2 linked regions of the Homo sapiens genome follow. The protein of the gene in region 1 purifies or fractionates together with the protein of each later gene. This does not show direct contact. Each region holds a gene or a part of one and is shown in the gene's direction. Other genes may lie near its edges.

Evidence for each region. Proteins that work in one complex are often made in the same cells at the same time.
Region 2: the proteins of LMNB1 (region 1) and NCSTN fractionate together in Homo sapiens (co-fractionation; one large-scale study listed by BioGRID). This does not show direct contact.

Annotation. Positions count from the first base shown.
Region 1 is NC_000005.10:126,828,954-126,832,800, forward strand, and holds part of LMNB1 (lamin-B1), read left to right. Parts: intron 1-3,740; coding exon 3,741-3,847. UniProt on the Homo sapiens protein: Lamins are intermediate filament proteins that assemble into a filamentous meshwork, and which constitute the major components of the nuclear lamina, a fibrous layer on the nucleoplasmic side of the inner nuclear membrane.
Region 2 is NC_000001.11:160,346,383-160,349,882, forward strand, and holds part of NCSTN (nicastrin isoform 1 precursor), read left to right. Parts: intron 1-2,616; coding exon 2,617-2,740; intron 2,741-3,166; coding exon 3,167-3,288; intron 3,289-3,500. UniProt on the Homo sapiens protein: Essential subunit of the gamma-secretase complex, an endoprotease complex that catalyzes the intramembrane cleavage of integral membrane proteins such as Notch receptors and APP (amyloid-beta precursor protein).

The DNA of each region.
Region 1 (3,847 bases):
TATGAATACAGGTCTTATTTCACTAGACAGTTACTTTTGGCATTTATTCATTTAATTCGATAAGACCATATTTGTCAGTAGGGACCAGACCACATTAGGAACAATCTATAAACAATCCCCGCCATAAAGACCAGTTTGCAGTAAGATTGTTGGTAACTGGCTTAGTCAGTTTTGTTTCTTATGTTTTTTTTTTTCTTCTTGCTGGGGCATTGGAAATGTCAGAAAACCCAATTAAACTGGCTTAGAAATAATGGAAATTTTTTGGGCTCACATAATAAAAAATTTAAATAGTGGACCTAATCCAGTGGCTCACAGCATGTCCCCGGGGATCTGTCTGTTGTTTCTCTTCTGGTTGCCTCCCTTGGGGACGCAGGATAGCTGCTGGCTGCTCCCAGAGGTACGTCTTTTCTATTTGCTTTTTGTGGGAAGGTGATCTTTCAAAAAAGTGCTCTTTATGGTGGAGTTTATAGATTGTTGCTAACGTGGTCCGGTACTACTGACAGATAAACATGGTCTTACCCAATTAAATGAATACATACCAAAAGTAACTGTCTAATGAAATAAGACCTGTATTCATACCACTTTCTCTCCTCGTTCCTGACAGAACTCTCTCAGAACAGCCTAGCAAGCAGAAGGCAGTAGAAGTTTGTTAAAAGAATGGACAATCCAGCCCACCAAATAATCTGATATTGAGTGTTTGAATTATGGAGGGAAGCTAAACTTCATCCCCTGTGAGGCACCCATCCTGGGCTTCACTCACACTGGACTAGGGTGGGTCACGTGCCCACCTCTAAACCAGTTCCTGGAGTTGGGAGGGCGGAATTAGAGCTCAAGACTTCTTCCTCCCCTCTACAGCCACATTGCACTGGGCTCCTTGTGACACACGTGTGCTCCATGGGGGGTGTGTACCCAGGTAAACCTAGGGGCTCTTATTCAGGAGGGAGGGGGCACTGGGTGGTTAAAAACAGCGATTGTCACCATGGCAAAAACAAGATGTTTTTTATGAGGGAAATAAAAAATAAAGCAGTCCTTCCAAACTTTCCAGAATATAGATATAATGGAAACTTTTGTATATGCAAATGATTACTTATATATGTAGAGATGCAATATATAAAATATAAACAATCATCTTTCGTCCACATAAGATCGCCCTGATTTGTAGCATTTGCTAATTTCTGTGGTATAAATACTCCTACTGTGGCTGATGCCAGGCTTCCAGCATTATGTGACTGAGCACAGAGCTGTGCAGTGATGAGCAGCATCAGCAGGTGCAGCCAGCTCCGGGCACCACTGCACAGATCAGTGCACCTTCATATGCCCAAGGCTCGCAGCAGGGGCGGACCAATGCTGCATTTTATAGACAGAGTAAAGCCTGTCATGTAAGACTATTTATGTGAACCTTTCAGGACACTTGGGGTAAACACATTTATTTAGTAGCATCTTGACTAATAACAATTTCCTTGATCTAAACCTCCCAACAGCTTTTTGGTTCTAAATTATTATTTATTATTTTTCTACCTAGATTTTTAGACATTAGCTCACCCATTTTTTATACGGCTTTCTGTATTAGATTAATTGGTTTTTGCATGTTTTCAAATGAAGAGTGCTTAACAGCAGGGTTACACTTAAAGTAGTTATGTTAAGGTAATTCATAATAATGAAGACAGGCAAGTTGCTGTTTTCTGAGGTTCTCATTGAGGCTAATAGTCTTAAGCTACATCATGAGCCTTAAGAGCCAATGTTTGCATATGGGATGTATACCACGAGCTTCTAGAAGCTGGAATGTGGTAATTTTGTTATAGAAGATTTTATTTGACTCGTTCCTCATTTTAAGATGAGTTGAGAAAAGCTGGGTACTCTCAAAGTTTTTTAAGAATTTATTTTTCTGCTTTATATGCTGCTATCTCCTAGTTGATAGCTTGAACGGTGGTTGATCTAAAGAATCACATTTTTTTTATTACTAATTTGGTTAAAACACTGATATTTGTGAAATGGCTATTTCTGTTTGTAAAGATAGACCAATTTCACAGAATTGAAGTTACTGGCTAATTGAGAGGCTCAAAATGGTCCATCTTCCTTGGTCCTGCAAGAGTAATAAAAAATCCCCACAAAATACTGTTCTGCCACCTTACTTTATTTACAAAACACATTATTGGGCATATTTCAAATCGAAGTCTCATTTCTGTGACACTGGGTTTTGATTTTCTTTCTCTGCCATTGTAAACTAGCTGGTCTGTGTTAGATAAGCTTTTACTGAAGTAATATTGTGTCTTCCCCTGTAGCATTCTCTTTCTTGAGTGACCTTAGGACAGGGTACAGAATAAAATTATATGCTCTGCAGCACTCTTGAGGACACACTCATTTACTTGCTGCCAGATCATCAGGTTAGCCTTGTGCTTAAGCAAAAACACTGCTGCATTTGTGCCAAGTCAGCATTTTCCACAGGAAAGTAATCTGTATTTGACCTTTTTAGTAGAAAATGGAAATAGTTGCTTTCTGTCATACCTTTAGTGAATGATAGGAGACCTATTTCTGTACAGAATACATTGGAACCTCACTAGTACGTTATTGGTAAATAGTGTACAGTGTTCATCTGTCTTGATTTTGTTTCATTCAAGAGGTATCAGTTGCTGAAAGGAATGAAAGGAGCTTGTCCTTTCTTCTCACTTATCAGGTGGTCCTGTTGCTGGTAGTCCCTGAGATCACAGTTGGCTTCCAGCTTCATTTTATTCAGCATTTATTTAGCACCTTATCTTTGCCAGGAGCTAAGATCTTTAAGCTGAATTCATGTTGAGTTTTATAAAGAATTTAGTATGTCAAATAATTTGTAGAATTCTTAGTAACAGAATAGGATAAAAAGCAGTGGAAACTTCTCAGCAGATATTTCGAATTGGATAGTACTTCCTCCCCTGCAGGAAATATGGAAGGTATAAGAACTGCTACTAATTATGCGGAAATTTCAGTTTAGTAACCAGAAAGTTACTGATATACAGCTCCCCCCGCCCCACCCCTTTAAAAATAATAAACAGGGGCCAAGTGTGGAGGCTCATGCCTGTAATCCCAGCACTTTGGGAGGCTGAGGTGGGTGGATCACTTGAAACCAGGAGTTCAAGACCAGCCTGGCCAACGTGGCAAAACCCCATCTCTACTAAAAATGTATAAAAATTAGCCGCACGTGGTGGTGCATGCCTGTAATCCCAGCTACTGGGGTGGCTGAGGCATGAGAATCGCTTGAACCTGGGAAGTGAAGGTTTCAGTGAACCGAGGTCATGCCACTGCACACCAGCCTGGGCGACAGAGTGAGACTCTGTCTCCAAAAAAAGGGATGAATAATAGTAATAATAATAAACAGAAATGCTGTCTCTTTTTTTTTTCTTTTTTGAGACAGTCTTGCTGTGACACTGGAGTGCAGTGGCGTGATCTCGGCTCACTGCAACCTCAATGCAAGCCATTCTTCTGCCTCAGCCTCCTGAGTAGCTGGGATTACAGGCACGTGCCATCATGGCCAGCTAATTTTTGTATTTTTAGTAGAGACGGGGTTTCACCATGTTGGTCAGGCTGGTCTCTAACTCCTGACCTCGGGTGATCTGCCTGCCTTGGCCTCCCAAAGTGCTGGGATTACAGGTGTGAGCCACTGCGCCTGGCAAGAAATGCTGTCTCTTAAGCAAAGAAAAGGTCCCTCTCCCCCGCATTTGGTGATTTTAAGTGTGTTTTTTAACTTAAACTACTATTGTTTTTAGGAGGTTGCTCAAAGAAGTACAGTCTTTAAAACAACCATACCTGAAGAAGAGGAGGAGGAGGAAGAAGCAGCTGGAGTGGTTGTTGAGGAAGAACTTTTCCACCAGCA
Region 2 (3,500 bases), on another chromosome or scaffold:
CAAAAGTGCTGTATAATTTCCTGAAGCCTTCTTCCCATTTGATAAGAGAAAACTGGGACACTGAGAAGTGAAGGACTTGTTCGTGGAAGCAGTTACTACTTTTTTAGCCATCTTTCCCTGAGCTATAGTATCTGTTAATTGTCCCATGTCCCTGCTATACAAAGCACTGGGAGTAGGTTGACTGGTTCCAAACAGCCCCAAATAAAGTTTTTGTTGTACTTAGTTTCTTTTTTTTTTTTTTGAGATGCAGTCTCGCCCTCTCGCCCAGGCTGGAGTGCAATGGCACAATCTCAGCTCACTGCAACTTCCTCCTCCCAGGTTAAAGCAATTCTCCTGTCTCAGCTTCTTGAATAGCTGGGATTACAGGCGCGTGCCACCGTGCCCAGCTAATTTTTTGTATCTTTAGTAGAGGCGGGGCTTCACCATGTTGGCCAGGCTGGTCTCGAACCCCTGACCTCGTGATCTGCCCGCCTTGGCCTCCCAAAGTGCTGGGATTACAGGCATGAGCCACCATGCCCAGCCCTCTGGACTTAGTTTCTGAACTGGTTTGTAGGTAGAAGAGAGCTAGGTCCAGGGTGGGCTGAGATCAGACTGCTGGTCTTGCTGGAACCTCACTATAAAGTACAGAAGGCCAGGACCCCAACCTCTTGTAACTAGGCTCTAAGAAAACTCCTTTGGGAATAAGTCATTCTACTCTATGTTCTTAAAACAGCTCTGTAGGAAGCAAAGCCTCTAGAGGTAAAGCCACGTGCCAGTACAGAGAAACAAGAGGGGGTAAGCGGGACTGTGGCCACTTCCTCATTAAGATCTTGGTTCCTTTTCAACCTACTTATTTCCAAATCTTACTTCGTCATATCTGTCTTTTCTGAGCAGGCTCCGCCCTTTTTAATTAGTGTAGCTAACATGATAAAACTAAGGAGAAAAAAGTGATACCCAGATTTGATTTCTGATTATAATACTCTGCTTCTCTTAGACGCTTTAAAGTTCTCAAAGGGGGCTTTAAATAGGTTTCTTTTCCCTCCCTCCCTCCTTCTATCCTTTCTTCCTTCTTTCGTCTGTCCCCACAGTATGAGATGAATAGAGGTAGAAAACCTCATTGAAGGCGCAGAGAAAATAAGCAAGTTACTTAAGACTACACCATTACTAGTTGGAACCCAGATTAGAATCCAGGTTTTTTTCAGTCCAGTATCATAGTTTGTCTTCCTGTCCTCGCTGGAGTTGAAGTTTTGGGGTGTGTGTGTGTGTGTGTCAGAGTCTCACTATGTCACCCAGGCTGGAGTGCTGTGGCACAATCTCAGCTCACTGCAGCCTCCGCCTCCCAGGTTCAAGCAATTCTCCTGCCTCAGCCTTCTGAGTAGCTAGCATTACAGGTGTGCACCATCACACTTGGCTAATTTTTGTATTTTTAGTAGAGATGGGGTTTCGCCATGTTGGCCAGGCTGGTCTCAAACTCCTGACCTCAAGTGATCCACCCACCCACTTCGGCCTCCCAAAGTACTGGGATTACAGGCATGAGCCACTGTGCCCGGCCGAAGTTATATATGTTTTAGTTGCCACACTATCTGTTCCTTTTCCCATGTTTTAAATGCTGTGGCAAGGGCCGGGCATGGTGGCTCACTCCTGTAACCCTAGCACTTTGGGAGGCTGAGTGGGCATTTAAAGTGATGCTGATATACAGCCAGGGCTGAGAACTACTGGTCTAAAATAATTGATGAATAACATATCCAATTTTCTGTAGGGAGAAGACTCACAGGGAGACCCTAGGATATCTCCACACAGATCACTGGGGACTTAAGGAGTATTACCTAATGCCTTGAATTATGTAGAATTCAAAGTATTCTGGACTCTGGGTCATCCATCCTCTAATACAGTGCTTCCCAATCTTTATCATGTCATGAGACACATAGAAAATGTTATTTGTATAGCATCCTGGCACATAGAGAAATGGGTGATATTTTCAGGGCATCCTGGGGTAAATGATAAGTAGGCTCCTGGCTGGAGGTGACTTTGGAAACCCTAGGTTTCCTGGAATGAGGAGAACCAATGAGAGCACATCTCTGATCCATTCGAGGCTTATCAATTGGGAAGCTCTGTTTTAGAAACCTCAGAGTTCTTGACTAACCTCATCTAAAACCGGCCAGAAGCAAGTAAAGTCATTCCCAAAAAGGGCAAAAGGAATGACGATCCAGGAAAGCTCCTGAGGCCAAGGGCATGTATGCATGTGTTTTTACAAAGGAAGATTCAAAGCTAAAACCCTGAGCTAGAGATTTAGTGGCATTTCCTAGAGAAAATATAGGTTTGAAAACTTTGGTGTCTATTGTTGTAGAATCTTATGTATATGGCTAAATAAGGTTGAGGGCAGAGGGCAAAAAAATGAAGTTCACAGAACCTTTCTGGCATATAATGAGTCCTCTTGTGCTCTTTTATATTCCATTCCCTCCTGATAACCTTCAGATGGAGCTGGGGCAACAGCTTTTCAGTTCAAATCTAGAGGTGCCTGTATTCACCCAAATATGTTGTGACATCTTTAGGGGATAAAAGATACGCAGAATCAGTGAGGCAAAGTCAGAATTGTTAACTATGGGAGCTTTAATTTGACTCATTCTGTCCTGGCAGCTTCAATTAGTGGAGACACAGGGGTTATCCACGTAGTAGAGAAAGAGGAGGACCTACAGTGGGTATTGACTGATGGCCCCAACCCCCCTTACATGGTTCTGCTGGAGAGCAAGCATTTTACCAGGTAAGAACTAGATGTATCTGCTGGGAAAACATCCATAGAGGGAAAGTTTCAGTGAACAGTCCTCACACTTATTAGTGAAAACTTCCCTTGGCTGCCCTGGTCTGGTCAGGGGAGAGGGCAGGGTGGTCCTCAGAAGGAAAGGTGTACCATCAAAAGAAATGATCTTGAGCTTAGGGCTAAATTTCACCTACCTGTCCCTGAGTAACCCTGGGCATCCCTCCCCTCCCTCCCTGGGGTCCTTACTCACTAAAGCTCTACTTTTTAGAGCAGATCATTGTCCAGACTCAGAATTTAGAGACTGAAAGGGAAGAAATAAGTCAACAGTTTGATTCCCCTAGTTCCCCATTTGTTTCCATCCTGCAGGCAGAATGTCAGGCTGTCTGATACCTTCCTGTGTTCCTTCATGGAATTCCTTTCCTATTCCAGGGATTTAATGGAGAAGCTGAAAGGGAGAACCAGCCGAATTGCTGGTCTTGCAGTGTCCTTGACCAAGCCCAGTCCTGCCTCAGGCTTCTCTCCTAGTGTACAGTGCCCAAATGATGGGTTTGGTAAGTGTCCCAAAGGATCAGGAGAGCCTACTGTCACCTAAGGCTCACTGTTGCTTCGGTCTTACGTCTTTGTGAGGGATGTATATGTGTTTGTGTCTGTGTGTAGTGTCAGTAACTGACTCCCAAACAGGGGGTAGTGTTTATTTGTCTTTGCTGCTCATCCCTTCCCTCTCCTGCTTCCCCTTCCTTTGCCTTACCTGGCATTATCTCTT